7 linked regions of the Homo sapiens genome follow. Changing the gene in region 5 together with the main gene of any one other region gives a genetic interaction. Each region holds a gene or a part of one and is shown on either strand. Other genes may lie near its edges. The genes, in order: DRC2, MAX, CHD4, UBE2T, CDH1, C16orf96 and DDI2.

Evidence for each region.
Region 1: changes in CDH1 (region 5) and DRC2 together harm fitness more than expected from each alone (negative genetic interaction), as found in Homo sapiens cells (one large-scale study listed by BioGRID).
Region 2: changes in CDH1 (region 5) and MAX together harm fitness more than expected from each alone (negative genetic interaction), as found in Homo sapiens cells (one large-scale study listed by BioGRID).
Region 3: changes in CDH1 (region 5) and CHD4 together harm fitness more than expected from each alone (negative genetic interaction), as found in Homo sapiens cells (one large-scale study listed by BioGRID).
Region 4: changes in CDH1 (region 5) and UBE2T together harm fitness more than expected from each alone (negative genetic interaction), as found in Homo sapiens cells (one large-scale study listed by BioGRID).
Region 6: changes in CDH1 (region 5) and C16orf96 together harm fitness more than expected from each alone (negative genetic interaction), as found in Homo sapiens cells (one large-scale study listed by BioGRID).
Region 7: changes in CDH1 (region 5) and DDI2 together harm fitness more than expected from each alone (negative genetic interaction), as found in Homo sapiens cells (one large-scale study listed by BioGRID).

The regions. Positions count from the first base shown.
Region 1 is NC_000012.12:48,913,943-48,918,285, reverse strand, and holds part of DRC2 (dynein regulatory complex subunit 2), read right to left. Parts: intron 3,883-4,343; coding exon 3,713-3,882; intron 1,317-3,712; coding exon 1,178-1,316; intron 12-1,177; coding exon 1-11.
Region 2 is NC_000014.9:65,095,492-65,099,834, forward strand, and holds part of MAX (protein max), read right to left. Parts: intron 1-4,343. UniProt on the Homo sapiens protein: Transcription regulator. Forms a sequence-specific DNA-binding protein complex with MYC or MAD which recognizes the core sequence 5'-CAC[GA]TG-3'. The MYC:MAX complex is a transcriptional activator, whereas the MAD:MAX complex is a repressor.
Region 3 is NC_000012.12:6,596,780-6,601,122, reverse strand, and holds part of CHD4 (chromodomain-helicase-DNA-binding protein 4), read left to right. Parts: intron 1-69; coding exon 70-197; intron 198-453; coding exon 454-589; intron 590-727; coding exon 728-906; intron 907-1,110; coding exon 1,111-1,350; intron 1,351-2,697; coding exon 2,698-2,901; intron 2,902-3,023; coding exon 3,024-3,229; intron 3,230-4,343. UniProt on the Homo sapiens protein: ATP-dependent chromatin-remodeling factor that binds and distorts nucleosomal DNA. Acts as a component of the histone deacetylase NuRD complex which participates in the remodeling of chromatin.
Region 4 is NC_000001.11:202,335,206-202,339,548, forward strand, and holds part of UBE2T (ubiquitin-conjugating enzyme E2 T), read right to left. Parts: intron 614-4,343; 5' UTR 550-613; coding exon 441-549; coding exon of another isoform or gene 437-440; intron 1-436. UniProt on the Homo sapiens protein: Accepts ubiquitin from the E1 complex and catalyzes its covalent attachment to other proteins. Catalyzes monoubiquitination. Involved in mitomycin-C (MMC)-induced DNA repair.
Region 5 is NC_000016.10:68,813,484-68,817,826, reverse strand, and holds part of CDH1 (cadherin-1 isoform 1 preproprotein), read right to left. Parts: coding exon 4,332-4,343; exon of another isoform or gene 4,265-4,331; intron 2,313-4,264; coding exon 2,068-2,312; intron 1-2,067.
Region 6 is NC_000016.10:4,573,054-4,577,396, forward strand, and holds part of C16orf96 (uncharacterized protein C16orf96), read left to right. Parts: intron 1-1,655; coding exon 1,656-1,736; intron 1,737-1,918; coding exon 1,919-2,005; intron 2,006-2,120; coding exon 2,121-3,582; intron 3,583-4,343.
Region 7 is NC_000001.11:15,661,854-15,666,196, reverse strand, and holds part of DDI2 (protein DDI1 homolog 2), read right to left. Parts: 3' UTR 1-4,343. UniProt on the Homo sapiens protein: Aspartic protease that mediates the cleavage of NFE2L1/NRF1 at 'Leu-104', thereby promoting release of NFE2L1/NRF1 from the endoplasmic reticulum membrane.

The sequences.
Region 1 (4,343 bases), on a different chromosome or scaffold from region 5:
TCTTCTAAATTCTAGCAAGTGACCCCAAAATAGCAAATGTTTGGAATTACCTTATTAGTGCCCTTTCACTTCTACCAGCAATCCCACCCTCTTGAACTGTTTGTAGCATAGTTTAGTACAGAGGTCTCCCATGAAAATGCCTACACAAGACCAGGCAGATGATATAAATATGTTTTGTGGGCCGGGTGGGGCCTGTGGTGAACTGGAGAGGAAATGCTGCATTTGGGAGGAGGAGGGGCAGTCACTGAGCTCCACGTGAGCCTTGCCATTTGGAAATGTGGCCCAGTGTTGCCAGATCTTTAAATTTTTCAAGGGAAGCTGAAAATTTGGATGTTTTTGTGAAATCTCCAATTTTTAAGTGTAGGATGCTTATTCAAAAAATTGTATAAAACACTGTGGGGTAAATAAAAACAAAGAACTCCATACCCAAACCTAGGTCTGTGGGCTGGCTAAGATTGCAACCTCGAGGACAGTGGAAAGCACTTTGGATCAAGGGGCAGGAGACCTAGATTCTCCTGATTCTACCACAAACCAGCAGCATGACTTTGGCAGGTCATTTTACTTACTTGTGCCTTACTTTCTTCATCTGAAAATCACAGGGGTGAAGCCAGATGATCTCCTTGGTGCTTTTTAGCTCTAAAATGCATTCCCTTGACAATTTAGAATGGTCCTCCCTCCCAACCAATTTTCACAAAATTACAAAAAGCATTAGGGATACCTACAGGGGGCAATAGATGTTTTATTGACTGTGTTGGCTAAAGGGGTCTCTTCTACTTCTAGTAGCCTTGAGCATTTTTCTTTTTTTCTTTTTTTAATTTTTTTGAGACAGGGTCTCGCTCTGTCACCCAGGCTGGAGGGCAGTGTTGCTATCACAGTTCACTACAGCCTCCATCTTCTGGGCTCAAGCGATCATCCTACCTCAGCCTCTTAAGTAGCTTGGACCATAGGCACACACTACCACGCCTGGCTATTTTCTTTCTTTTTTGGGGGGGCCGGTAGAGATGGGGGGGACTCCCTATGTTGCCCAGGCTAGTCTTGAACTCCCAGTCTCAAGTGATCCTCCTGCCTTGGCCTACCAAGGTGCTGGGATTACAGGTGTGAGCCACTGTGCCCAGCCTCCTTGAGCATTTTTCTATCACCTCCTCCCACTTCTTGCCTATCTACTCTCCCTCCGTACCATGTTTTTGAGATCATTCCACATGCTCTGGAACTCCAGCTTGCTTTCATACTCAGAATCTATATAGTTCTGCTCCATGGCCATGAAGATATCTTGCAGATAGTGAATCTCTTTCTCATGTTGGTCAATAATTGTCTTCCTGTAGGAGACAAGACACTGTCCCTGCTCTGAGGGATACAGGATATTGACCAATAATGACAATTCAAAGCAGTATGTAATCTATGTGAATGGTACAAACTCTTAGGTACTGATGGAGAAAAGAGAGAGGGAAGGCTTTACTCTTTTTAGGGCTAGAAAGAATGAGTAAGGTTATTTTATTTTGATTTCTGAATGGGTAATACATTCATGTGATACAAAAAAAGTACAAAAGGTTACAGTGAGAAGTCTCTCTCCCATCCCTGTTCCCTGCCAAATGGGTAGGATTTTGATAGTTGAAAGTGGGTAGTTGGTCCCTCTCCCTCTCCCTCTCCCTCTCCCCATGGTCTCCCTCTCCCCATGGTCTCCCTCTCCCTCTCTTTCCACGGTCTCCCTCTCATGCCGAGCCGAAGCTGGACTATACTGCTGCCATCTCGGCTCACTGCAACCTCCCTGCCTGATTCTCCTGCCTCAGCCTGCCGAGTGCCTGCGATTGCAGGCGCGCGCCTCCACGCCTGACTGGTTTTCGTATTTTTTTGGTGGAGACGGGGTTTCGCTGTGTTGGCCGGGCTGGTCTCCAGCTCCTAACCGCGAGTGATCCGCCAGCCTCGGCCTCCCGAGGTGCCGGGATTGCAGACGGAGTCTGGTTCACTCAGTGCTCAATGGCGCCCAGGCTGGAGTGCAGTGGCGTGATCTCGGCTCGCTACAACCTCCACCTCCCAGCCGCCTGCCTTGGCCTCCCGAAGTGCCGAGATTGCAGCCTCTGCCCGGCCGCCACCCCGTCTGGGAAGTGAGGAGCGTCTCTGCCTGGCCGCCCATCGTCTGGGATGTGAGGAGCCCCTCTGCCTGGCTGCCCAGTCTGGAAAGTGAGGAGCGTCTCTGCCTGGCCGCCATCCCATCTGGGAAGTGAGGAGCGCCTCTTCCCGGCCGCCATCACATCTAGGAAGTGAGGAGCGTCTCTGCCCGGCCGCCCATCGTCTGGGATGTGGGGAGTGCCTCTGCCCCGCCGCCCTGTCTGGGATGTGAGGAGCGCCTCTGCCCGGCCGCCACCCCGTCTGGGAGGTGAGGAGCGTCTCTGCCCAGCCGCCCCGTCTGAGAAGTGAGGAGACCCTCCGCCCGGCAGCTGCCCCGTCTGAGAAGTGAGGAGCCTCTCCGCCCGGCAGCCACCCCGTCCGGGAGGGAGGTGGGGGGGTCAGCCCCCCGCCCGGCCAGCCGCCCCATCCGGGAGGTGAGGGGTGCCTCTGCCCGGCCGCCCCTACTGGGAAGTGAGGAGCCCCTCTGCCCGGCCGCCCCTACTGGGAAGTGAGGAGCCCCTCTGCCCGGCCACCACCCCGTCTGGGAGGTGTGCCCAACAGCTCATTGAGAACGGGCCAGGATGACAATGGCGGCTTTGCGGAATAGAAAGGGGGGAAAGGTGGGGAAAAGATTGAGAAATCGGATGGTTGCCGTGTCTGTGTAGAAAGAAGTAGACATGGGAGACTTTTCATTTTGTTCTGTACTAAGAAAAATTCTTCTGCCTTGGGATCCTGTTGATCTGTGACCTTACCCCCAACCCTGTGCTCTCTGAAACATGTGCTGTGTCCACTCAGAGTTAAGTGGATTAAGGGCGGTGCAAGATGTGCTTTGTTAAACAGATGCTTGAAGGCAGCATGCTCATTAAGAGTCATCACCACTCCCTAATCTCAAGTACCCAGGGACACAAACGCTGTGGAAGGCCGCAGGGTCCTCTGCCTAGGAAAACCAGAGACCTTTGTTCACTTGTTTATCTGCTGACCTTCCCTCCACTATTGTCCTGTGACCCTGCCAAATCCCCCTCTGTGAGAAACACCCAAGAATGATCAATAAAAAAAAAAAAAAAAGAAAGAAAGTGGGTAGTTGGTAAAAGGAATTTGAGGAGTTAAATTTAAAAAGAAGAAAAAAAAGTTATTTAAAAAAGTAAAACAATAACATAGCCAGGTGTGGTGGCACGCACCTGTAATCCCAGCTACTGGGGACACTGAGGCAGGAAAATTGCTTGAACCCGGGAGGCAGAGGTTGCAGTGAGCTGAGATCGTGCCACTGCATGTCAGCCTGGACAACAGAGCGACACTCCGTCTTGAAAAAACAAAACAAAATAAAAAAATAAAACAATAAAGAAAAAAATAGTGAAAGAAAAAAAAAGAAGAAAGTGGGTGGTGAAGGTACACAGACAGGGACCTGACGTGAGTAAAGGGAAGCTAGAGCTGCAAACTTAAGCCCGAGTTTGTTTAAAAGGAACCAAGATATTCTCTGCTGGGGGTCCCGTGATAATCAATGTGGGATGCTCCAAGATACTAGCCACTTGCTTACAGGCAACTCCTTGACACGGACTCTGGGCACTCCCCTGGATTCAATTCCCCATCTTCTCTTAGGCCCCCATACCTTTCTGTCTCAAACTCCTTGGTTAGGGCTTCCAGCTCCATGTTGTAACTTTCCTCCAGGAGACTGAGCCGGTGCCTCTGCAGGGCCAAGAGCTGGTCAACATTGTGCAAGTGGCTGCGCAGGGCATGGGCGTACTGCTCCTCGGCTTCGGACAGGTCTTTAGCTAAAGACTAGGCCAGAAAGAGAGAGTTACCATTCCAGCTGAATAGCATCTCTGTGAGAAAATAAAAATATATTCAGCTGGCAGTTTTTTCTTTGTTCCTAATGCCAATTCTTTGACTTTAAGAATGCTGGCTGTCCCCCTCACTCTTGTGTAAAGCAAGAGTGATGGCAAGGGCTGAGCAAGGTGGCTCGCATTTGTAATCCCAACACTTTGGGTAGCCAAGGTGGGAGGATTACATGAGCCTGGGAGCTCAAGACTAGCCTGGGCAACATAATGAGACCCCCCCATCTCTACAAAAACAAACAAACAAACAAAAAAACCCATAAAAATTACCCAGGCCGTAATCCCAGCTACTCACAAGGCCTGGGCAGGAGGATTGCTTAAGCCCAGGAGTTCAAAGTTGCAGTGAGCTGTGATCATGCCACTACACTCCAGCCTGGGTGACAGAACAAGACCCTGTCTCAAAAA
Region 2 (4,343 bases), on a different chromosome or scaffold from region 5:
GAAATAGTGCGACAGAATTGAACCTATTTAAGTATCTAGTCCTTTTGAACTTACTGTTGTTCCCTCTGATCATCTACATAAAGATAAGTTGGGCTGCGACTATACCTAAGGAGCTTAAAGGCCAAGAGACAATATTTGGCATGTGTCTGCGGCTCCTGTTTGCTATATACTACCTAAGGTGGTTTATTTACATGCAAATTAATTGCCCATCTTTGGTCTCCAGAGCAGCCCAAGATACTCCTGTCTACTAAATCACCCTGATTCTTGGCCCTCCTCCCAGCTAAGAGCTGTGCACCAGAATTACCCACAATCCCTCTTGTTGATACAAATAAAATTCTAATTGTCTGTTTTCTTTCTGGGAGAGCCCTGCAAATCTCAAACAGCTAGAATGAAGTTGCACTTGGTTTCACGTGGACCTGCACTAAAGGGGTGGAGCTAAGTATAATCTAACACCAAAATCATCCCCACAATGCACTACCCCCTCCCATTCACTGAGCTCTGAAAGGACTCAAATGGACAAGTCTCTCGGTTGGAGGATTGTAAGTGAACTTGGCTGTAGATCATGAGCAGAAATCTTGGCTTCTCATCTGGGGAGCCAGCCAAGTTTGAGAAGTTGGCTCAACAAGGAAAGGCAGCAGTCCACTGCCTGGTAGAAAGCCTGGGCTGGGGACTGTTGTTCTCAAAGTAGTGGATGGAATTTCTGTAGTGGTTCCAGGCCCAATTTAACTAGCAGAAGAGTGGAATCTTACACCAATCCCTGCTGCCATGTCCATCCCTGAGCTACTAGTGGAGTCAATTTTAAATCTCTCAGAGACAATGGCAAGGATGTATTTTTCTCTTCCCCAAGCTTGATTTGAAAGAACAAGTTAAAAACATGCAGAACTAACAAGCCTAATTCCAGGCAACTGTGAATTAAATGTTATCACTAATGTTTTGAAAGAGCACATGAAAAACAGAAAAACCTTTACACAAGGCTGAGAATTCTCTGTGGGAAACATTTCCAAACCACAGATCCACCCAGACCAATAACACTGCCCGCGCCTCATCCCCACCCCCATTGGAGGACTAGTTTGCAGGCTTTATCACTGCCTTGTTAACTGTCTTTGCTTGCTGGCAACCCTTTTTGAGAGGGCCAAGATTTCAGAGTTGAAGAAGAAAAACTGGGTGAAGACTCCCAGTGTAAGGCATCTAATATCCTCCCCCAAATGCAAAACTGGTTTTAAAAAACAAGCCCAAACAATTGTCTTGAACAAATAAAACTCTACTCAGATGAGCCTGTACTGAGAATGATGTTCAGTAATGAAAACAAATGGTACGGAAAACCCCCTTGTGGAATTAATTAGGCCCTATTCTAGGAGACCACAGAGGTATTCTTGGACTGTACAGCAGGCTCCCAAACATCTCCCCTACACATCCTATGGTTACAGTGGCTGGATGCTGCCCACTCTTCTAGTACGCTGGATTTGTACGTCTGGATGTCTGCCAGAAAACCCTTCCTCCAGGGCATCCCTAACAGAAATACTAAGGGGCTATGCAGTGGTCCACAGATGCTCAACAGAAACTCCCGCACCAAATCACTTCCAGCTTTGACATCTCTGCCAAAGTTTTTATTCAGCCTCTCAGTTATATTTCTACCCAACTTTCCACACTGGTAGACAGAATAAAAATCTTCACCTACAATTTGTCCATCTTTGACACTACCAAGCACGTGTATCTTAAGTGTTGTTAGATGTTGAAGACAAACATTATTTTGTTAGCCAAGAAGTTGCTATGTTGGCAAGAAGTCATCTAGGCTAAGGAGGTCTGTTCAAAATTGAGGGAAATCTCTTAAAATTATTTCCTTCCAACTTACTGCAGAGAGACTGCATCTTTGTTCAAGGCATCACATCAGTCAGTAATCTTATTTCCTCCAAGTTCTAGGCAAATAGCACGGGGAAATAAATGCTTCATTATTCCAGGATGCACAAGGTTCTCCAGAACAATGCCATGTCTTACAGGCTACCTGACAGCTAACCCCACCTATAAGGGGAACCATCTCAATTCTAATACAGAAAATTCTCAGCATATAGGGAATTAGTTGCCCACTCAATATTTACTACCTTTACAAAATGTGAAGGTTGTATTTTAGAGGGAAGCTTGTGTTGCTTATGATTCTTATCAAGCTATTCTTATTAGAGACTAAGGACACGAGAATACACAGACCCAAAAATCTCATCCGAAAAGATCTATTTCTTACTTCTGATAGATAAGAACAAGATAGGATAAAGCTCAATTTCTAAGCAACTTAAAATATTCATTTTAATCAACCCAAAAATTATAACATAAAATAATAGGCAGGTAGGATGGGATAAACTCACCAAGCTCCCTAAGAGAAAGACATGGATTTCAATTTTCCAATACCTGTCCTGCTTGTAGCTGATTGCCTGGTATACATTTCCAACATTATCTAATGTATGTATTTGTTTTCAAACTTTTTTCTTTTGGTGCCTAAAATAACTGGCAAATGCTATAATCCAAACAGGGCCTCATACTATAGCCATTTCAGAGAAGGATGCCTTGGTCAGGAAATTTTAATTAAAAACCAAGCTGAATTCTTTGACCAACTATTTCACCGTTACTGGCATCTTGGAAAAATTCTTTTAGACATAAGAACAACTTTTACCCTAACACAGGCACATTTAGGAACTAACTCTGGCATTTGTTATCACTGTAAGCATCACTGTCAACACTCTAAGCAGAGAAAAAGTACATGCATTGTGCAGCACTTTTGCCATGCAACTGACTGCAGGTAAAACAGACAGTAGTTTCCTGAGTGAATTCCAATCTCGGAGGCTACCAAGCTCGTTCTCTTCTGAATATTCCTAAAGAAGCAAAGAGCTCTGAGAAGTTAAAAATATTTCATGCCAGAAAGGTCCAGAAGTGGAATTGCACAAATCTGTTTTCAAACCCCTCACAAGTATACTGCAACTGCAACTCAGTCAGGTGCCATCAAGGATGGTCACTGGAAAAAAAATTGCATTTCCTGACCAACACACTAACCCATACATTTCCTGTATACTTACACTCTTTCCTAAAGAAATTTCCCAAACAGAAATAAAGCAAAAGGAAGCCCTTGCAATATAATATACCTGTCCCACAAATTTATCTTTAAAATGCAACCTCTTCCCTCCAAAATATAATAAAAATAACATCAGTGGGATTTTGCGATGTACTGAATTTAGTAGTAAGAATACTCTTTGGGGTTACTTCCTTTAACAAAGCTTACTGGCCATTGGAGAAGCTGTTTTCCGTTTGTACTGAAGCAATAGAAAAAAATATTTGCCAAATCAGTTTCACTTTCTGTTAGAGTTAGCCTAACTTCCTAACTCTCTTCTCAGTATCTTACATTTCTCATGTAGTAAGGCCTATATATTGTAGTGACATTATAAAACATACATGAATGTTTTTATATTAGGATCCACAGAACCCTTTTCAAATAACTTTTTCAACATCTTCTGTAGTCCTGAATACCTAAGTATTTGGTTGTTCACAGTCCACATCTTTTTTTAAACCTTTTTTCTAAGGCAAAACTTAAGAATAGCTCCCTCTTAAATTTTAAAAAATATATTTATTATCCATATTAAATATTGAGAAGTAAGCAGATGCATTCACAGAGGGGAAAAAATGGAATCCTTTTTACCCTACACAGTCACAATAGTTGTTTGATATACTATAAAATTTGTTTATAACATATCTGCTTTTTCTCTCCATGCTGTTGTAATTACATTGTGCAGAGTAATATTTAGAAATATCAACAAATAGATGTGTTAAATTAAAAACAAAGTGTCAAACCAACTTCCTTTGCCTACCCCCAAAATCAAAAGGAAAAATCCTAGGCACCTTAACAGCAAACTAAAAACATCTAGACAAAACAATGAGATTAGCATTCCAGGAAAGCAGAAACATTATAATAATTTAATAACAAATTTATATCAACGATCATATGGATGAAAATTTTGAAAAGCAGAAAGCTTTCAAGAACTGCGAGCCAAAATTTCACCAAAAAAACAAACAAACAAACAAACAAACAAAAAAAACACAACTTTCTCTTACTGGGAAGTCAGTATAATTTCAATTCAAAGGATAATTCTGCAAAGGAAGGCTAAACGATCCTTACCCTCCAGCTCTGATCAAGCCCTAGCACAGATTTTACAACTGGAGACTTGCAGGGAAAAAAAAAGTTTTCAACAGACTAGGCCCCAAACATGAAGGATAAAAGTAAATGTGAAAAAGGAATTCAATTTTCAAATATATGCATAAGTATATGAGAATACTTCAAGGATAAATAAAATAAAACAAATTAT
Region 3 (4,343 bases), on a different chromosome or scaffold from region 5:
AGGTGGAGAAGATTTTATTTTCCCCATCTTTGGTCTTGTGGTATATATTTGGATATATCCTGATTTTAGGTCCCAATGCTCGGAGGAAGCCCAAGGGCAGCCCTCGTGTACCTGATGCCAAGAAGCCTAAACCCAAGAAAGTAGCTCCCCTGAAAATCAAGCTGGGAGGTTTTGGTTCCAAGCGTAAGAGATCCTCGGTGAGAGCCCAGCCCATCGCTTTAGGGAGGGTGCCATGTCTAATAGAAAGGATGTGACCTTCTATCAGAACCTGTCCTTCATAGTAGGCACGTAAGAATGTGGGGCGTTTCCCACAGAACAAGATGAGACTAGGCTCCCTGTATAACGGTGCTTGCTGGGATTCTGGTGTCCCCAGTGAGAGAGTACTCCCCTCTCTGCCACTCTGTCCTTCCCCTTGGCTTGAACGTCTAACCTTATTCTTTTTCATCCTGCCAGAGTGAGGATGATGACTTAGATGTGGAATCTGACTTCGATGATGCCAGTATCAATAGCTATTCTGTTTCTGATGGTTCCACCAGCCGTAGTAGCCGCAGCCGCAAGAAACTCCGAACCACTAAAAAGAAAAAGAAAGGTGTGTTTCTCTTCTGTATATTTGTGATGGGATGAGGTGGGAGTGATTGGGGAAGAATCTCCCTAAGGAGATAGGGGTCGGGGGGTGGGGGGAGGTAGTTTTTTTCCAATAACTGGGCTTTCCCTCTTCCTTGCCCAGGCGAGGAGGAGGTGACTGCTGTGGATGGTTATGAGACAGACCACCAGGACTATTGCGAGGTGTGCCAGCAAGGCGGTGAGATCATCCTGTGTGATACCTGTCCCCGTGCTTACCACATGGTCTGCCTGGATCCCGACATGGAGAAGGCTCCCGAGGGCAAGTGGAGCTGCCCACACTGCGTGAGTGTCTGGCCATTGTGGCCCCTTGGAACCCATGAGAAGAAGGGTGGGACAGTAAAGCTCTTCGGGGCCTGGATGGAAATGGAAATGCTGGTGCTGCGGGTTGTGAGCTTTGGGAAGCATTCAAAGGAATGATGGGCACTGGCTTCAGACTGCGGTGGGCGGGTGGGGGTAATAATCTGAATCTGTGGTCCTTTACTGCAGGAGAAGGAAGGCATCCAGTGGGAAGCTAAAGAGGACAATTCGGAGGGTGAGGAGATCCTGGAAGAGGTTGGGGGAGACCTCGAAGAGGAGGATGACCACCATATGGAATTCTGTCGGGTCTGCAAGGATGGTGGGGAACTGCTCTGCTGTGATACCTGTCCTTCTTCCTACCACATCCACTGCCTGAATCCCCCACTTCCAGAGATCCCCAACGGTGAATGGCTCTGTCCCCGTTGTACGGTGAGTGACTGATCTCAGCCGGGGCAAAAAATGGGAAAGTGTAGTCTTTTCTATGTAGGCTATTGTGAGGCTGGGGTGCAGGAGAGGAACTATGAGCTTTTCAGCCCTGAGAAAGGTATTCTCCTTCATCCTATAGTGTTGGGATACTTTTGTCCTGGGAAAATATAGGACTAACTTCAAACTGAGGAGTTGATGTTTTGCCAGCTCTCTTAAGAGGAGATGAAGCAATGTTCTTCTAGCTGAGAACATTTGTCCCTGTGTTGACACCCTGCCTCAGGGTCTTGGTAGCTTACAATGTTTTCAATTTTTTTGTTAAAAAAATTTTTTTTTTTGGAGACAGGGTCTCATTCTGTCATCCGGGCTAGAGTGCAGTGGTGCAGTCATAGCTCATTGCAGCCTCCAACTCTTGGGCTCAAGTGATCCTCCTATCTCAACCTCTTGCTGAGTAGCTAGGAGTACTGGTGCATGCCACCACATCCAGCTAATTAAAAAAAAAAAATCTCTGTTGAGACAGGGTCTCACTATGTTGCCCAGGCTGGTCTTGAATTCCTGGTCTGAAACCATTCTGCTCCCTTGTCCTCATTAAGTGCTGGCATTACAGGTGTTTACCACCATGCCAGCCAGTTTAGAATGTTTAATAGGGCCACTTACTGCTTTAGATTGCTTAAGGGAGGAATTCTGTGCTCTAAGTCTGTTGATTTCCTGATTGTTCTGGCTTATTGTTAAAGTCTAACTACTGGCTCTGTTAAGCAGATAGGAGTGATGGTGGCACGCAAATCCTGGACGATGTCCAGAAATGGAGAGGGAATTCTATTACAGGTTGAGCACCCTAATCCAAAAATGTGAAATCCAAAATACTTCTGGTCCCAAGCATTTCACATGAGGGGTCCTCAACCTGTATTTTCTCCCTGGAGGAGTCCTGGGATTAGATTTTATTTGAAATGAGATCTTTTTTTATTTTTTTGAGATGGAGTCTTGCTCTGTCCCCCAGGCTGGAGTGCAGTGGGGCAATCTTGGCTCACTGCAAGCTCTGCCTCCCAGGTTCAAGTGATTCTCCTGCCTCAGACTCCCAAGTAGCTGGGACTACAGGCGCATGCCACCACGCCCAGCTAATTTTTGTATTTTTAGTAGAGACGGGGTTTCACCATGTTAGCTAGGATGGTCTCGATCTCTTGACCTCGTGATCTGCCCGCCTCGGCCTCCCAAGGTGCTGGGATTTCAGGCATGAGCCACTGCTCCAGGTCTGAAATGAGATCTGAATCGTCCTTTGATGAAGTTGAGACTGTGGGCTGTCCCTTCTCCTCCCATGGTTATGATTTGAGATTAAGTTGTCTCTTTTTCTCTCAGTGTCCAGCTCTGAAGGGCAAAGTGCAGAAGATCCTAATCTGGAAGTGGGGTCAGCCACCATCTCCCACACCAGTGCCTCGGCCTCCAGATGCTGATCCCAACACGCCCTCCCCAAAGCCCTTGGAGGGGCGGCCAGAGCGGCAGTTCTTTGTGAAATGGCAAGGCATGTCTTACTGGCACTGCTCCTGGGTTTCTGAACTGCAGGTAAGTTTAGGATAGTCTGGAGATGTAGGGGCTACGATGAAGAGGATAGTGACAAAAGAGCCTTGTGGATAGAAGGAATGAACACAGCTTCTTGGTGGCTGATTTTCTCTTTCCGCTCAAAGCTGGAGCTGCACTGTCAGGTGATGTTCCGAAACTATCAGCGGAAGAATGATATGGATGAGCCACCTTCTGGGGACTTTGGTGGTGATGAAGAGAAAAGCCGAAAGCGAAAGAACAAGGACCCTAAATTTGCAGAGATGGAGGAACGCTTCTATCGCTATGGGATAAAACCCGAGTGGATGATGATCCACCGAATCCTCAACCACAGGTACCAGCTGAGCACACGGGAGACGGGCAGTCTCCGTGGGAGAGTCCTGCTAAAGAGATTGGGAAAATGGCTGTCACCAGTAACTTAGACTTGGAAGACACTGGTTTTTTTTGTTTGTTTTTTGTTTTTGAGACAGAGTCTCACTCTGTGCCCAGGCTGGAGTGCAGTGGCGTGATCTCGGCTCACTGCAACCTCTGCCTCCCAGATTCAAGTGATTATCCTGCCTCAGCCTCCTGAGAAGCTGGGACTACAGGCGCAAGCCACCATGCCCAGCTAATTTTTTGTATTTTTAGTAGAGACAGGGTTTTCATTCTGCTGGCCAGGCTGGTCTTGAACTCCTGACCTCAGGTGATCTGCCTGCCTTGGCCTCCCTAAGTGCTAGGATTAACAGGCGTGAGCCACCACGCTCAGCCTTATATATTTATTTTGAGACAAATTTTAGCTGTGTTGCCCAGGCTTGAGTGCAGTGTCGTGATCACTGCTCATAGCTGTCCCAAACTCCTGGGCTCAAGCAATCTGTCTGCTTCAGCTTCCCAAAGTGTTAGGATTACAGGCGTGAGCTACTGCGCCTGACACTTCATGTTATTATCTTTATTTATTTATTTTATTATTATTGTTTTTTTTTGAGACAGACTTGTCACCCAGGCTGGAGTGCAGTGGCGTGATCTTGGCTCACTGCAAGCTCTGCCTCCTGGGTTCACGCCATTTTCCTGCCTCAGCCTCCCGAGTAGCTGGGACTACAGGCCATCGCCACCATGCCTGGCTAATTTTTTTTTTTTTGTATTTTTAGTAGAGACGGGATTTCACTGTGTTAGCCAGGATGGTCTTGATCGCCTGACCTTGTGATCCGCTCACCTCCTCCTTCCAAAGTGCTGGGATTACAGGCGTGAGCCGCCGCACTCGGCCTATTTATTTATTTATTTATTATATTTTTTGAGACAGAGTCTTGCTCTGTGGCCCAGCCTGGAGTGCAGTGGTATGATCTAAGCTCACTGCAACCTCCGCCTCTCAGGCTCAAGTGATTCTCTGCCTCAGCCTCCAGAGTAGCTGGGATTACAGGCGTGTGCCACCACGCCTGCCTAATTTTTTTTTTTGAAATGGAGTCTCGTTCTGT
Region 4 (4,343 bases), on a different chromosome or scaffold from region 5:
ACACACCACAATGCTAATGTACTCAAAAAGTTAATGGTGTCAAACAAAGGACATATAGAAAATCTAAAGCAGAAGTTGCAAAATGCTGGCCACAAGACCAAATACAACCTATAGATTTGTTTTGTTTGGACCGCAGTATTCTAATCATGTATGTTTCCCATCTGGCCTCACAGATATTTGAGATGGTTATCTTTGATCTAAACACTGCTTCACTGCTTTAAATCTTGGCTATAAATCAGCATAAGGTATAATAAAAAGTCAAAGAAGCAAGAAATGTCAAGCAAACCTTTTATAAATGTAAACAAATTTGGGTAGAAAGATGGTAGGGCACTCTGACCTTATAACTGCTCCTTACTTTAGAAGAATACACAAAATGTTTTATTTCAGCACAATCTTCAATAGGGTCATGACTTTCATCATATACATGATTTGATACCTACGAGCTCGCAGGTCATCCATTTGGTCTTTATCTTGCCAACATGTGATGCCTGGGGGTGGCTCTGTGGCTAACATGTGCAGCTCTCTCTTCAGACGTGAAGCTCTCTGCATGATCCCCAAGTAGAAGGAACCACACACAGTTCACTGCTCCACACTAAGAGCTGCCTGGGATGCACTGGAGGAGAAAAGAGGTGACCATAAAATCATCAGCAATAATGACTATGAAGTTTTCAGCAAACAGCTTCAATGTAGTGAGGGTGGGGGACAGAGTCCTCTTTTTTGTTTTGAGACACAGTTTCACTCTGTCACCCAGACTGGAGGGCAGTGACACCATCTCAGCTCACTGCAATTTCCACCTTCTGGGTTTGAGCAATTCTCATGCCTCAGCCTCCAGAGTAGCTGGGATTACAGGCGTGCACCACCATGCCCAGCTCATTTTAGTATTTTTAGTAGAGACAGGGTTTCGCCATGTTGGCCAGGCTGGTCTCAAATGCCTGACCTCAGGTGATCCGCCTGCCTTGGCCTCCCAAAGTGCTGGGATTACAGGCGTGAGCCAATGCACCCAGCTTTTTTTTTTTTTTTTTTTTTTTTTTTTAGAGGCAGGGTCTTGCTCTGTCACCCAGGCTGGAGTGCAGTGGCACAATCTCAGCTCACTGCAATCTCCACCTGCTGGGCTTAAGTGATCCTCCCATCTCAGCCGCCTATGTAGCTGGAAGTACAGGTGTGTGCCACCACGCCAGTCCAAGATTCCTCTTATTAATCTCTATTCTGACAAGGGAATCTGAGTTTTTCCACTCCCTTCTTGTGAACGTTTATCTATACAAGCAAATATATTTTTAAAATAAAGAACTAAAAATGCAAAAAGTTCTACAAAAAATAAAAACACTAAAGGTTTTAAATAATGGGTGTTTCCACTGATAAATTATAAACTCATGAGGCCAGGCCTGGGTCTGATTTTGCTTACTATTGTAGCCTTAGCATGCCTGTCATAGTAAGGGATTTGACAAATATTTGCTGTTGTGAGGAAGTCTACATATGCTTTGTGAGAGCAAGAATGGTAGAGATAGTCAACATTCTCAGGTACAAACAAATGTTAAATGTCCGAGTTTCTCTCCATGTGCTATGGATTCCACCTTCTCCCAATCTTCAGGGATACCATTCCATCAATTATTCCATCTTTCTTACCCTCAATGTTCAAATATGCTCAAAGTCTCTCTCACCTAAAACCAACACCTACACACATATTCACCCAACACTCTTCTCAACTCTAGTTCTCTCTTTACTAACCAAGCAAAGGACACTAATCCCTTTTGTTTTTTAGACGGAGTCTCGGTCTGTTGCCCAGGCTGGAGTGCAGTGGTGCGATCTCGGCTCACTGCAACCTCAGCCTTCCGGGTTCAAGCAATTCTCTGCCTCAGCCTCCCGAGCAGCTGGCATTACAGACGCCCGCCACCACGCCCGGCTACTTTTTGTATTTTTAGTAGAGATGGGGTTTCACCATCTTGGCCAGGCTGGTCTTGAACTCCTGACCTCGTGATCCACCCACCTCAGCCTCCCAAAGTGCTAGGATTACAGGCGTGAGCCACCGCGCCCAGCCAACACCAATCCTTTAATGTGTTACAAATATCCCCCAGTTTGTGCTTATCTTTCCATGTTGTACATGGTGTCTTTCAATAAACACATACTCTTAACATAATCAATCTTAAAATCTCTTTCTTTACATTTATACTTTGTGTATTAAATTTTTCCTTACCCCCAAATGTAGAGATATTCCTACATAGCCTTCAAATATTTTATAATTTTGCTATTCAAATTTAAATATTGAATCCACTAGGAATTGAATTTTATGTATAGTGAGTGAGGTGGGGGTCCAATTTAAAGTTTTTCCCCATATGAATAGTCAATTGTTCTAACATCATTTACTGAATCAGTCCATCCTTTCCCTGCTGATATTACTATAAATTAAATTTCTATATGTGTGGATTTGTTTTGGGACTCTTGAATTTGTTCCACTGGTCAAGTGGATTATTTCTGAGACAATACTCCACTGTTTGAATTACTATAGCTTATTCATTTTTTATTATTTAAATTTTTTCCCAGCTTTACTGAGGTATAACTGGCAAATACAAATTGTATATATTTAAGGTGTACAATGTGATGTTTTACTATAGCTTATCCACCTGGTCTTTTTCTTCAGGAATGACTTGATTATTCTTGACTCTTTGCTCTTCCATATAAATTTGAGAATCAGTTCATAAGTCCATAAATATATACATAAATATGTATATCTGAAATTATAATCCAAATCATAACAGGGTTCTGTGGTTTGGATTGTAATTTTATTGATGCTATAGATCAATTTGGAGATAACTGATATCTTTATGATATTGAATCCTAAGATCCATGAACACGCTGTTTCAGTCTTTTTTTTGATGCTTTCCAAAGGTTTTATAATTTTCTCTATAAAGCTTTATCTAATTTTTGTTAGACTGATTTCTAAGTATTTATATTTTTGCTATCTTTTCAAAAACACTATTTTCTACCCATTTCTTACTGATACATGTAAATCTAATTGATTTTTTTTTATTTTTTTGAGATGGAGTTTTGCTCTTGTTGCCCAGGCTGGAGTGCAATGGTGTGCTCTTGGCTCACCGCAATCTCCACCTCCTGGGTTCAAGCGATTCTCCTGTCTCAGCCTCCTGAGTAGCTGGCGTTACAGGCATGCACCATTAGGCCCAGGTAATATTGTATTTTTTTAGTAAAGACAGGGTTTCTCCATGTTAGTGAGGCTGGTCTCGAACCACGGACCTCAGGTAATCCACCCATCTCAGCCTCTCAAAGTGCTGGGATTACAGGCATGAGCCACCTCGCCCAGCCAATCTAACTGATTTTTAACCAAAGCCTTAGTAATGCTAATGATGAATCTATTTGGGGTGGGGAGCAGTCTGGGAATGGTAATTCCACACTGCCAATCATGTCATCCACATATAATCAAGTTTATTTCTTCCCTTCTAATTCTTTTCCTGCCTTCTATTCTGACAGTAACTTCTAGTACAATGTTAAATGAAAAAGCTGATAGCTGGGCCAAGCATGCTGGCATGAGCCTGTAATCCCAGCTACTCAGGAGGCTAAGGTGGGAGGATGACCTGAGCCCGGGGAGACTGAGGCTGTAGTGAGCCATGATTGTGCCACTGCACTCCAGCCTGGGAGGCAGAGTGAGACCCTGTCTAAACAACAGCCAAAAAAAAAAAAGAAAAAAGAAAGAAAGAAAAGCTGATAGTTGGCATTCTTGTCAGATTTCTAACCTTAAAGGGAAAGCTTTTAACACTATGCTAATCAGTAAGACTGGCCTATAACTGTCCTTTCTAATTTTGTCTTTATTAGCTATCAAGGTTATGCTAGCCTCCTAAAATGAGTTAGGGAGTATTGCCTCCTTTTTTTTTTTTTTTTTTTTTTTAACATATTGTGGATTAGTCCAAGAGATAATTTGTTACTAGGTTGTCTGGAATAACTCCATCTGATCCTGGTGTTTTCATTTTGAGAAAATTTTAACCTACAAATCCAATTTACTTGAATCTTATTCAAGTTATTTATTCTTGCATCAATTTTGGCAAGTTAAATTTTTCCACAAATTTATCTATTACATGCAATTTTCAATTTATTTGTATAATGTTTTATCTTTTTAATCTGTAGTTATCTATGGTTATGTTTCCATTTTCATTTCTAACACTGTTTATCTGTGCCATCTTTTCTTTGATCAGTCTTGCTGGGCATGTATCAACCAAAAGGAAGTTCAAGTTTTGGTTCCACTGGAAAGAATAAAAATTTATGACAAAAATAGAAAATGAGAAAAAATACTTTTTTCTTAAAAATAAAGATTTTTTGCTGGAAGTGTTTTGTACTTC
Region 5 (4,343 bases):
AATATGGCCTTTCGTTGGCATGGCTCTTCCTTAGGTCTTTCTTTTCTGTCACTGACATTTTTGAAATGTGCTGGCCGTTGTTTTGTAGCATGCCCCTTAACTTGGGTTTGTCTGATTATTCCTCAAAATTTAGATTCAGGTAATCCATTTCAGGGGTCGGTGGGGGCAAGAACAGGACAGAGGTGATGCTGTGGCCTCCCTAGTGCAGGACACTGGGAGGCACATGATGTCTGTCTGTGCTTCTATTGATAACTTTGATCACTTGGATAAGGGAAAGGCCACCAGATTTCTTCACAGCAAAGGTGCCTTTTTTCACTGCATGATTAACCTATAATCTGCAGGTAGATAATTTGAGAATATCTTGTTCAGCAACTAATTTTCACCCAATGGATTTGGCATCTGTGGATGATTCTTGCTGAAGCAATGATTACTATAATCCTTATTTATTTTTAAAAGCAGACTCCTGCAGACCAGCTCCCCCAAACAATACAGTAGTTCCTAAATGGTGGCAACATGCCACCTCCTCTCCTGTCATGAACATCTGGAGATGCAGGTTGCCCTGTTGACCTGTGGGTGGACTGCACTATTGCCATTTAATGGGAGGTACAGGGAGGCTAACAGAGATCTACTGCTCAGTTATTTACTAGGGTCATGGAAAGGCTCTGAAAGAGAAACTAAGAAATCAAAGGAGGAAAGGGCTCTAAGAAACTGTGGGCTTGGCCTCACTTCTTTGGAAGTGCAAAGCAATGAATTACATCAAGTGGTCATTGTTCCAGGCGTAAGGGCCTCTGGAAACAGACACTAAAGACCTGGTCCCTGAATCTGCCCCAGGAGATGCTTTGAACTATCTATTTCACTACTGCAAGCTTTCAACCCAGCCTGGAAACTGTACAATCCAGGGTTTCATCACTGAACCTAATCCTACATTATTGTCTTTGACTTTTCATCATTCTTTTAAACTTCGATTAAAACCCATCTTGCCAGGCCTTACAGTTTGGAGCATGTAGAAATATCTCTAGATTATGAGGAGTCCATTGGCTACACATAGAAAATGAGAGTTTTTTTGTTTTTTGTTTTTGAGATGGAGTCTCACTCTGTCACCCAGGCTGGAGTGCAGTGACTCGATCTCAGCTCACTGCAACCTCAGCTTTTTGGGTTCAAGTGATTCTCGTGCCTCAGCCTCCCGAGTAGCTGGGATTACAGGTGTGTACCACCATGCCCAGCTAATTTCTTGTGTTTTTAGTGGAGGCAGGGGTTTCACCATGTTGGCCAGACTGGTCTTCAACACCTGGCCTCAAAGTGATCCACCTGCCTAGGCCTCCCTAAGTTTTGGGATTACAGGCATGAGCTGCTATGCCCAACCCAAAATGAGAGTATTTTAAAGCAAGTGTTGTAGTTGGTTGGTTGGCATGTGGGTTCTCAGTTCTCAGCATCTGTGTGATTTACATTATAGAGGTACCTTCAAGTTTGAAAGGAGAAATACTGATAGTAAGCTACTTAGAACACAATACTATGGGCTGGGTGCGGTGGCTCACGCCTGTAATCCCAGCACTTTAGGAGGCAGGCAGATCACTTGAGGTCAGAAGTTCGAGACCAGCCTGGCCAATGTGGTGAAGCCTTGTCTCTACTAAAAATACAAAAATTAGCCGGGCGTGGTGGCAGGCACCTGTAATCCTGGCTACATGGAAGGCTGAGGCATGAAAATTGCTTGAACCCAAGAGACAGAGGCTGCAGTAGGCAGAGATCACGCCACTGCACGCTAGCCTGGGCGACAAAGTGAGACTCCAAACTCAAAAAAACACAATAGTATGTATGCAAAGTAAAATTGCATTTCTACCATACTACAAGAGCTCAAAGAGAGGCAGCACATCAGACCAAGAACGGCTGTCTGTGAAGGGAAGGGAACAGGTGAAAGGAGCACAGATAAAGGGAATAAAAAATAAATTAAGAGAATGGTCTTGTACAGACAAATGACAAAATGCCATGAAGTACATATTATTGATTTACATATAAAATGATATAAAATAACCAGTTGCTGCAAGTCAGTTGAAAAATCCTCACACTTACGTTATTTTCTGTTCCATAAATGTGTCTGGCTCCTGGGCAGTGTAGGATGTGATTTCCTGGCCCACGCCAAAGTCCTCGGACACTTCCACTCTCTTTTCAGGAGGCACAAAGATGGGGGCTTCATTCACATCCAGCACATCCACGGTGACGGTGGCTGTGGAGGTGGTGAGAGAGACCTCAAAAGGTACCACATTCGTCACTGCTACGTGTAGAATGTACTGCTGCTTGGCCTCAAAATCCAAGCCCTAGAGAGCAGAAACAATGAAGTTAAAAACAAAACGAAACATTTTGTGTTAGTAAAAATAAAATTAAATCCTTAACTGTTGCTTTTGGTAATATATTAGGTTGGTGCAAAAGTAACTGTGGTTTCTGCCATGACTTTCAATGGCAGAAACCACAATTACTTACCATGGCTTCTCAAATCTGCTCACCTACTCAAGAGGAAGGCAAAGCTGGGGCTATTCTAGGGATCCAGTCACTTCAACAAGCAATTCACTCAAATTCTTAGTTTTCAAGTTTCTTTCCTTATTTTATTTTTTTCTGAGACAGAATTTTTGCTCTTGTCACCCAGGCTGGAATGCAATGGCTCACTGCAACCTCCACCTCCTGGGTTCAAGCAATTCTCCTGCCTCAGCCTCCCTAGTAGCTGGGATTACAGGAGCCCGCCACCACACCTGGCTAATTTTTTGTATTTTTAGTAGAGACGACGTTTCACCATGTTGGCCAGGCTGGTCTCGAACTCCTGACCTCAGGTGATCCACCCGCCTTGGCCTCCCAAAGTGTTGGGATTACAGACATCAGCAACTGCACCCGGCCATCTTTTTTTTTTTTTTTTTTTAAGAGATGGAGTCTCATTCTATTGCCCAGGTTGGAGTACAGTGGCATGATCATAGCTGAGTGCAGCTTCAACCCCCTGGGCTCAAGTGATTCTCCCACCTCAGCCTCCCAAGTAGTTGGGCCCACCGCCATACACTACTGCGCTTGGCTAGTTTTCAAGTTTCTAGGACATTTTTCAAAAACAACCATATCTGCCCCACTTCTAAAATAAACCAGCACAAGAGCAGAGACCAGTAAATCATTTTCTCTGTCACCGCAAAATGGAAAGAGCTGAGGGAAGGAGAATGTTTCTGGGAAAGAGCCTATTAAAGCAGATAGTACTTCTTTTTCAATTTCAGGATCCTGTGTAACAGCTTCTTGATTTCTTTTTTTTTTCAGACAGAGTCTCACTCTGTTGCCCAGGCCAGGGTGCAGTAGCACGATCTTGGCTCACTACAACCTCTGTCTTCCAGGCTCAAGCGATTCTCCTGCTTCAGCCTCCCAAGCAGCAGGGATTACAAGTGTGCACCACCACGCCCAGTTAATTTTTGTATTTTTGGTAGAGACAGGTTTTCACCATGTTGGCCAGGCTGGTCCCAAACTCCCGACCTCAGGTGATCTGCCCGCCTCGGCCTCCCAAAGTGCTGGGATTGCAGGCATGAGCCACCATGAGCCACCAAGAAGCCTTAGCTTCTTGATTTCCTTTTTTTGAGACGAAGTCTCACTCTGTTGCCGGGCTGGAGTGCAGTGGCACGATCCTGGCTCACTGCAACCTCCCTCTCCTAGGTTCAAGCGATTCTCCTGCCTCAGCCTCCCTAGTAGCTGGGACTATAGGTGCACACCACCATGCCCAGCTAATTTTTGTATTTTTAGTAGAGATGGGGTTTCACCATGTTGGTCAGGATGATCTCGATCTCTTGACCTTGTGATCTGCCCGCCTTGGCCTCCCAAAGTGCTATGATTACAGGCGTGAGCCACCACGCCCGGCCTCCTTTTCCCCGCCCACCCCTGGAGACTGAGTCTTGCTCTGTCACCCAGAGCTGGAGTGCAATGGCACGATCTTGGCTCACTGCAACCTCCACCTCCCAGGTTCAAGCAATTCTCCTGCCTCAGCCTCCCTAGTAGCTGAGATTACAGGCACGTGCCACCATGCCTGGCTAATTTTTGTATTTTTAGCAGAGACTCAAACTCCTGACCTCGTGATCTGCCTGCCTCAGCGTCCCTAAGTGCTGGGATTACAGGCGTGAGCCACCACACACAGCACAGTTTCTTGATTTCTTACATGAGCAGGAAGAGCCACTGCAAATCCCACATGGTCCACTACAATCTGGGAAAGTCACCCTGTCCCCCTGCCAAAGCGAATCTACTTCTAAGAAGATACCAGGGGACAAGGGTATGAACAGCTGTGAGGATGCCAGTTTCTGCATCTTGCCAGGTACCATACAAACCTTTGCTGTTTT
Region 6 (4,343 bases), about 64 Mb from region 5:
GGATGGCTCCCATCTAAGCAGAAAGAACGCTGTTAAAAGCTGCATCATGAGCTACTCAAAAGGGCCCCTTAGACAAAGCTGTTGGAGAAACCATGCCTTCTCGGCGGGGCCTGGTGTCTCACGCCTGTAATCCCAGCACTTTGGGAAGCCAAAGCAGGCGGATCACCTGAGGTCAGGAGTTCGAGACCAGCCTGGCCAACATGGTAAAACCCCCGTCTCCACTAAAAATACAAAAATTAGCTGGGTGTGGTTGCAGGCACCCGTAACCCCAGCTACTCAGGAGGCTGAGGCACGAGAATCACTTGAACCCAGGAGGTGGAGATTGTAGTGAGCCAAGATTGCGCCACTGCACTCCAGCCTGGGTGACAGAGCAAGACTCCGTCTCAAAAAAAAAAAAAAAAAAAAGGTGGGGTCGGTGGGGCGGCATGGTGGTTCACGCCTGTAATCTCAGCATTTTGGGAGGCTGAGGTGGGCAGATCACAAGGTCAGGAGATCGAGACCATCCTCGCTAACACGGTGAAACCCCATCTCTACTAAAAATACAAAAAATTAGCTGGATGTGGTGGCAGGTACCTGTAGTCCCAGTTACTCAGGAGGCTGAGGCAGGAGAATGGTGTGAACCTGGGAAGTGGAGCTTGCAGTGAGCCGAGATCACACCACTGCACTCCAGCCTGGGCAACAGAGTGAGACTCTGTCTCAAAAAAAAAAAAAAAAGAAAAAAGAAAAGAAAAACAATGCCTTATTGGCCTGTCTCTTGGAGGTGTTTTTGTTGTTGTTGTTTTGTTTTGTATTCTTTTTGAGACGGAGTCTCTCTCTGTCACCCAGGCTGGAGTGCAGTGGCACGATCTCAGCTCACTGCAACCTCTGCCTCCCGGGTTCAAGTGATTTTCCTGCCTCAGCCTCCTGAGTAGCTGGGATTACAGGTGCAAGCCACCACGCCTAGCTAATTTTTGTGTTTTTAGTGGAGGTGGGGGCTTCACCACATTGGTCAGGCTGGTCCCGAACTCCTGAACTCATGATCCACCCGCCTCAGCATCCCAAAGTGCTGGGATTACAGGCATGAGCCACTGTGCCCGGCCCTCTTGGAGATTCTTAATGTGCTTTTGCTCATTCAAGGCTCTGGGAAGTCCTGCCGTACAGAAACCTGTTGAAATGTTTTTTATTTATTTATTTATTTACTTATTTTTGAGACAAAGTCTCACTCTGTTGCCCAGGCTGGAGTGCAGTGGCGCCATCTCAGCTCACTGCAACCTCTGCCTCCTGGATTCAAGTGATTCTCCTGCCTCAGCTTCCTGATAGCTGGGATTACAGGCGCATGCCATCAGGCCCAGCTAATTTTTGTATTTTTAGTAGAGACGGTGTTTCACCATGTTGGCCAGGCTGCTGTCGAACTCCTGACCTCAAGTTATCCACCCACCTTGACCTCTCAAAGTGCTGGGGTTACAGGCATGAGACACTGTGCCCGGCCTGACATGCTTTCAAGCCCAGCATTTCCCAAACTTGTTTGCCCATGGAACCCTTTCCCACTCCTTGGGAAACACTGGATTTGGAACCCGTTCTTCCTTCTCAAGCTCTTAGTCACCTAGAGCCACGGGAAAAGGCAGGGGTGGGACAGAACCTGGACCCCCAGTCCACAGACTCAGTTCCTTTGACAGGTACACCCAGAAAGAATGGACATCTTTGCTGAAGACTTCAAAATACAGAACTGGAAGATGGTTGCACTGCAGCGGGAAGTGGTGAGGGCCACCATCCCTGTCTTCCCCCACTCCCCCTGGGACCCCCCAACCTCCCGGGTCCTGGGTGCTGAGGGTAGGGAGGTGCAAGGAGGAGAACACAGCCTGGAAAGGTTTCTTTGCAGGTGTGGGGGACACTGCCCCCTCCAGGCTCACAGCCCTCATTTTCTACCCCCACCTTGCAGGCTTCTCTCCAGAATAAGTTTAAAACCATCCCCAAAACCGAGGACATGGTGCTCTGGAGTGGCCTTCATGATGCCATGTTCACCTCAGTGAGTGAGGAAGGAAGGGGAGGTTAGCAGGAAGCTGGGGAGCAGGCGGGTGGCTGACTGAGAGTGGGAGGCGGGGCTGGAAGCCAGCAGAGCCCCTCTGCCCCCTCTTCTGCAGGAAATTGGTTCATCACCACTGGACCTGTGGCAGTCTGTAGAGCAGCTCCCAGAGGCTGCCCTGGCCCAGACCACCAAGTACCTTGAAGCTACTCGTGCCATCCAGGTCTCCGAGCCCGTCCAAAACCCCCAGCTACTGCAGACTGTCTGGCATTATGAGGTCCCAGAGCTCCTCCCGGAGGGCTCATCTGCCCAAGCAGTTTCACTCAGCAGAGCCCAGGAGCCAGCGCAGCCTCCGGCCCTCACGCCTGAGTCTGCACCTGGGTGCACAACTGAATTTGCACCTGGGCCTGCACCTGGGACTGAACCTGTGCCAGGACTGGAGCTGGGGCTGGAGCTGGAGCCTGTGCCTGCCCTGGGGCCTGTCCCAGGGCCCAGTGTGACACCTGGGTCCTTGCCAGCACCTTGGCCTGTGCTTGGACCTGTGCCTGCCCCAGGTGCCCAGCCTCCACCACTGGGAGACTGGCCTGCACTCCCAAGACGCTGGCCTCTTCCCCAAGGCTGGCCCAGGGTGGGCTCTTGGCCTCTGTGGGACTTAGGTGTCCTGCGGCCAACTCAGCCCCAACCCTCCAGGGCCCCACCACCAGCCACTGAGTTTGGCTCATTGTGGCCTCGACCACTCCAGCCATATCAGTCTCGCCAGGGAGAAGCCCTCCAGCTCGCAGCTGTCCAAGTAAAGGGGGAGGAAAATGATGTCCCCAGCCTAAGGGGCCTTCGGGAGAGGGCCCGCAAGGATGGGGCCCCCAAGGATAGAACTCGCAAGGATGGGGTCCCCAAAGATAGAGGTGGCAAGGATGTGGACCCCAAGGATAGAGCTCACAAGGATGATGTCCCCAAAGATAGAGGTGGCAAGGATGTGGACCCCAAGGATAGAGCTCACAAGGATGATGTCCCCAAAGATAGAGGTGGCAAAGATGGGGACCCCAAGGATAGAGTTGGCAAGGATGGGGCCCCCAAGGAAGCACAGCCTAAGGCTCCCCAGTCTGCCCTTCACCGGCTGAAAACCACCGCTGCCATCGCCGCCGCTGCCGCCGCAGCCTACGCCGCTGCCACATCCTCCGCTGCCCAGGCAGCCAAAGTTGCTGCCAAGTTTGTCAAGGATGCCCCAGCCACCAAAATGGCCGCCATTGCAACAGACACGGCTGCAGCTGGGCCCCTAGGGGTCTTTGCAGATGTCCTGGGTGCAGGGCCTTCCCGGGGAGCCACAGAATCCCAGATCTTGGGCGATGATTCCGAAATCTACGAAATCCTCTCTCCCTCCTACTCTGCTGCCAGCATCGGTCCCGATCCAGCCCTGTCCCAGGCCATGGTGGCTACCAAGCAGGCCATGAGCCCTGAAGACAAGAAGAGGGCTGTCAAGTATTCCATGAGCCACATAGCCCAGATACCTGTCAAACACGACTCTCTGAAGGAAGAATTTGCCCAGCTGTCCTGTAACCTGAACCAGCGCTTGAGTTATCTAGGTAGGCCTGGTCTGGCCCTGGGAAGGGCACAAGGGAGTGGGGCTCTCCCTGCAGCCTTTGAGAAGTGTGTCCTGTCCTTCACTGGGCTCCACCAACAAAATCTGCATTCCACCATTAGCCATTCTTTCCTTTGGCTTAAGCATTTGGCTCTTAACGAGTCTATTCTTTTCTGTTGAATGTACAATGAGGTCTTATCTTAGGGCAGGGAGGCTGTTAGGGTCTAAAGTTGGCACGAGGAAAATGGCATGCCAAAATTACTCTCAAAAACTCTTGTGGCCAGGCGTGGTGGCTCCCACCTGTAATCCCAGCACTTTGGGAGGCTGAGGTGGGCGGATCACCTGAGACCGCAAGTTCAAGATGAGCCTGACCAACATGGAGAAACCCCGTCTCTACTAAAAATACAAAATTTGCTGGGCGTGGTGGTGTATGCCTGTAATCCCAGCTACTCGGGAGGCTGTGGCAGGAGAATCGCTTGAACCCAGGAGGCAGAGGTTGCGGTGAGCCAAGATCATGCCATTGCGCTCCAGCCTGGGCAACAAGAACGAAACTCTGTCTCAAAAACAACAACAACAAAAAAAACTCCTTTGTGATAGCCCATAAAACAGTATTGTATTGGCTAAGCATGGTGACTCATGCCTGTAATCTTAGCACTTTGGGAGGCCAAGGCAGGAAGACTGCTTGAACTGGAAGTTCGAGACCACCCTGGGTAACATCAAGACCTCATCTCTAAAAAAATTTTTAAACACTAGCTGTGTGCGGTG
Region 7 (4,343 bases), on a different chromosome or scaffold from region 5:
CTGAGGAATCACTAAGGTATAAAACTTGAACCATGATTTTACATTTCCAGTTCTCAAGGACAGGCTTTGAATTTAATTTGTTGTTAAGAGTAATTAGCAATTCTAGGGAAAAAAAAGCTATTTTTATTTTCTCTACCTCCTAACACAAAAGGTAACATTCATCTTCTAGGAAGGGAAACTCTTGATAACTCTGTGTCTTTCTAGGTCAGCCACAGACTACACTAAGTCACCAACTCCAAAGGGGAAATTTGGCTTTTTGGTGAGTACTTGTGCTAGAGAACAGTAGAATGCATAATCTGGTCAGCTTCTCTTGGGACACACTGCCAGTGATAACAGGTTTGAAATATGCAGCAGTTCAATCATCCTGCTCACCCTCACCACAGGTGGCAAACAGGTAGGAAAAGGCCATTGCAACGCCCTGCAGCTTTTCTGGCCGATGATTTGCAAGGCTGTTTGCTATATATATATATATTTATATATGTGGCGGGATAAAAGCCACCATAAGTGAAGAGTACGTCTGTAGATATAAAAATTGCTTGCTTTTAAATCCATATAAAATTAACTATACTTGTCAATCACCATATGTATATGCTAGCTTACACACATATATATAGACATGAGCTTAAAAGTTAACCTAAATTTTTATGGCTTTCACCGGAGATAGAAAGCTGTAGTAAGACAACCAGCAGATTCCACATTAACTGGTTATCATAAAATCAGTGACAAAAAGCCTCATGTTCCATTTCTATGTACCCTCTTGCTAGAGACATGCTTTGGGAAAAAACACATAGGGTTGTGTCTCCCTTTAGTACATATGAAGACAGGGAGCTCTAGAAGATGTGGGCTGCAAGGCAGAAGAGTTTTAACACATGCACTCGCCATCTCTCCAGCTTCCTTTGCCAAGCAACTGGTTACCTTTTTTTTTTTTTTTTTTGAGACAGAGTTTTGCTCTTGTTGCCCAGGCTGGAGTGCAATGGCGTGATCTCTGCTCACCACAACCTCCGCCTCCCAGGTTTAAGTGATTCTCCTGCCTCAGCCTCCCGAGTAGCTGGAATTACAGGCATGGGCCACCACACCCGGCTAATTTTTGTATTTTTAGTAGAGATGGAGTTTCACCATGTTGGCCAGGCCTGTCTCAAACTCCTGCCCTCAGGTGATCCACCCGCCTTGGCCTCCCAAAGTGCTGGGATTACAGGTGTGAGCCACCGAGCCTAGCTGCAACTGGTTATCTTTATGTGTTAATAGCTGAAGCCCAAACTGTGGGATGAAGGCTATTGGCTGTCTGGAGCCCTGAACAGGTATGAGTGGAAATAATTCTTAACAGCATCAATGAGCAAAATCTATAACCTATGTAAAGCTGCTGTCTGGTTACCAAGCACATCTTTCCGCTCAAGAACCAACTTCAGGGAAATGGCACAAATTACACAGGAAAATCTTCTCTCTCTGGTGAAGAAACAGAGACCGCCCTTGTAGTTAAGTGCTGACCGCAGAACTGCCCACTACTGGTTATGGTAAAGGAGCTGTCCGGTAAAGGTGCCCATTACTGGTTATTACTGTTGGCAACCAGAATTCACAGGGATTTGATGGTATTCTTAGAAGTTAACCCATAATTTCTGCATTTCTGGAGCTCTTAATTGAATAAAAGCTGACGATGAAGGTTCACTATTGTAATGCTCCTTAATATACCCTTTGCATTCTAGAGCTGCTAAATTTAAGTCATCCAAAATATTAACAGTGTCAATAGCTTTTTTTTTTTTTTTTTGGGTGAGACAGAGTCTCACTCTGCCGCCCACACTGGAGTGCAGTGGCGTGATCTAGGCTCACTGCAACCCCCATCTCCCAGGTTCAAGCAATTCTCCTGCCTCAGTCTCCCAAGTAGCTGGGATTACAGGCGTGTGCCACCATGCCCAGCTAATTTTTTGTATTTTTAGTAGAGATGAGGTTTCACCGTGTTGGACAAACAGCTTTATTTTTATAAAAATGATGGGCAAGAAGATTTTAAAAATCAAAAGCAATTATACTTTGGCCTTTATGTAGTCCCAGCTACTCAGAAGGATGATTAAGCCCCAGAGTTTGAGTCCAGCCTGGGCAACACTGCAAGACCCCATCTCAAAAATAAAATGATGGAAGGGACAAGGATATTTGGCAAGTGGGTTAAGCTCATTCAGAGTATTCCTAACAGGAATTCATGTACAACTATAGATCTATTCCTAAAAATAAATATACATATACATACACAAAAAGCTATCCTAATGAAATCTTTTCCCGACTGATATTATATATTCCACTTGGAACTGTTTCCCAAATATCCACACTGAATTGTGTGCCAAGGTTCGTTCTGCTTACATGGAAGGCCCTTTAGGAGGGAGTCTATTGTCATCAGTAAGTTCCCCCACCCTTCCCACCCCGTGGTTCCAAAGATTTATAAGCTTAGAATACATTCCCAAACCACCACCCATAAAGCAAATACAGGGTCCCATTGCATTGCTACTAGATTTTGCATCAATCATAGCACCAACTATTTAATTACAATCACAGCTTTAAGTCAGCTGACAGAAATCCTATGAGCAGTTTCCTAGTGCATCGTACATCTTTGGTGTAGGGCAGGTGAAAGGGTCTACAATGTGCAGCTGTCTAAAAGAACATCTTAAAGACAACCTGGCTGACCTGTTGTTCTTCACGCCCTCTGAAAAGCAGTAAACTACAATTCCTTCTGTCAACCATTTCCTAACTACATAAAGGATCATGATGAATCTACGTGACACGCCATCCCATCACTAAAGTCTTATAACATACATACAAACATCATAGCAAAAGGAAAGAAAGAAGTTGGATGGGGTAGAAAAAAATGTCTCTAAGTGCCCCTAAATTAAAATTTCAAAAACTCCTGAGATATGAGCCTCCATTTTGATTGTGCTCAATGACTTAAAATTTGATGAAACAAACAAGCTTACAAAGAGTCAGACTTCAGACAAAATCATTTAACACTAAGTTGAGAAATCACTCTTTCGAAGCTTCTGTTTCAAACATGTTACAAACTATAATCTAGAATCAGAAATTATGAATCTCAAAATTCTTTTCAATAAAACCAAGACTTCAGATTCCTGCTAGGTACCCAAAAGAGCAGTTTGCCAGGAAAGAATTATCTAAAACCTATCCAGTAGGATTATTGCACAGTGGGGCCCACAGGACAATGATTTCCAAGGGCTAGTCCTTATATAAAAAAAGGCCACAATAAATACATCTATATATTATGCCCCACTCTAACTTGACATGGTAAACACAAATAAGATGAATTTTGCTTAAAAAAGAAACTCCTGAGGAAAGAAAAGGATGGAAAACTCTACCAAGGCCACTTAAGTCAGAAACTGTAATTACTATTTCCACTGCCACAAAGGACACTCTCCAAATAGACTGACCGTTCCAAGCACCAAGATTAACCAGTGACAAGGTTATCACACTTAGTATTTCACTCAGATCACAGCTCACACTGAGCGTTTGAAGAACTTCCTGGCAGAAGAGTCTAGAAAGGAAATAAGCTGCTGGCAATGAATCCATTCCTGAACTTAATTCCACCATTAGTCATTAAGGGTTGAGGTGTTATCAGTGAGATGCTAGCAAACCCAAACTCTAGCAAATTCCAGTGTTTAGGCCATTATTTTTCCCTCACAGTTCTTGACATCTGCAAATGGAATTATGGTTGTTCTGTTCTTTTAAGAATCTGGGTAGCACCACGTTTCACTTGCATTGTAACTCCCCCACAATATCCCATCCAATGTAATAAGGATTCATGGCAATCCATGCAGCAGCCTGTGATGCACAAAGTAGCCCAAGATTTAAACCCTCCTGCTCGCCCTATTAAAATGTCAAATCCTAAGCACACAAATAAAAACATACCACTCTACGATAAGATATTCAATTATTCTCCAATTTCCTGTTATAATTAATGAATCATGATACACAGAGCACTGGGTAGAATTCCAAACACCAAATTATGTGGTCAAAAGTTTCTAAATTGACAACTGAGCCAGCAAACCATACCTTGCCATCAGCACAGACACACAGTCACAGTGTGGAGAGTTCATCTGTTTTTAGCTGGATGGGTAGTGGGATTTCTCATGGCTTCTGCTTTTCAAAGCATTTACTCTCATTCTAAAACAGTATGCTACACACAAAACCATCCATTTTATTCCAGGATACATCTTAATGAGAATAAAAAGCTTCTGTATGCACATACTGCCAATACATTTAAAAAGGCCTAAATTTTAACAAGTAGGATAGACAAATTCATCAGACAAAAGATCATAAATTACTTTGGCCGAAAAAAATCTTTAAAAAAAATC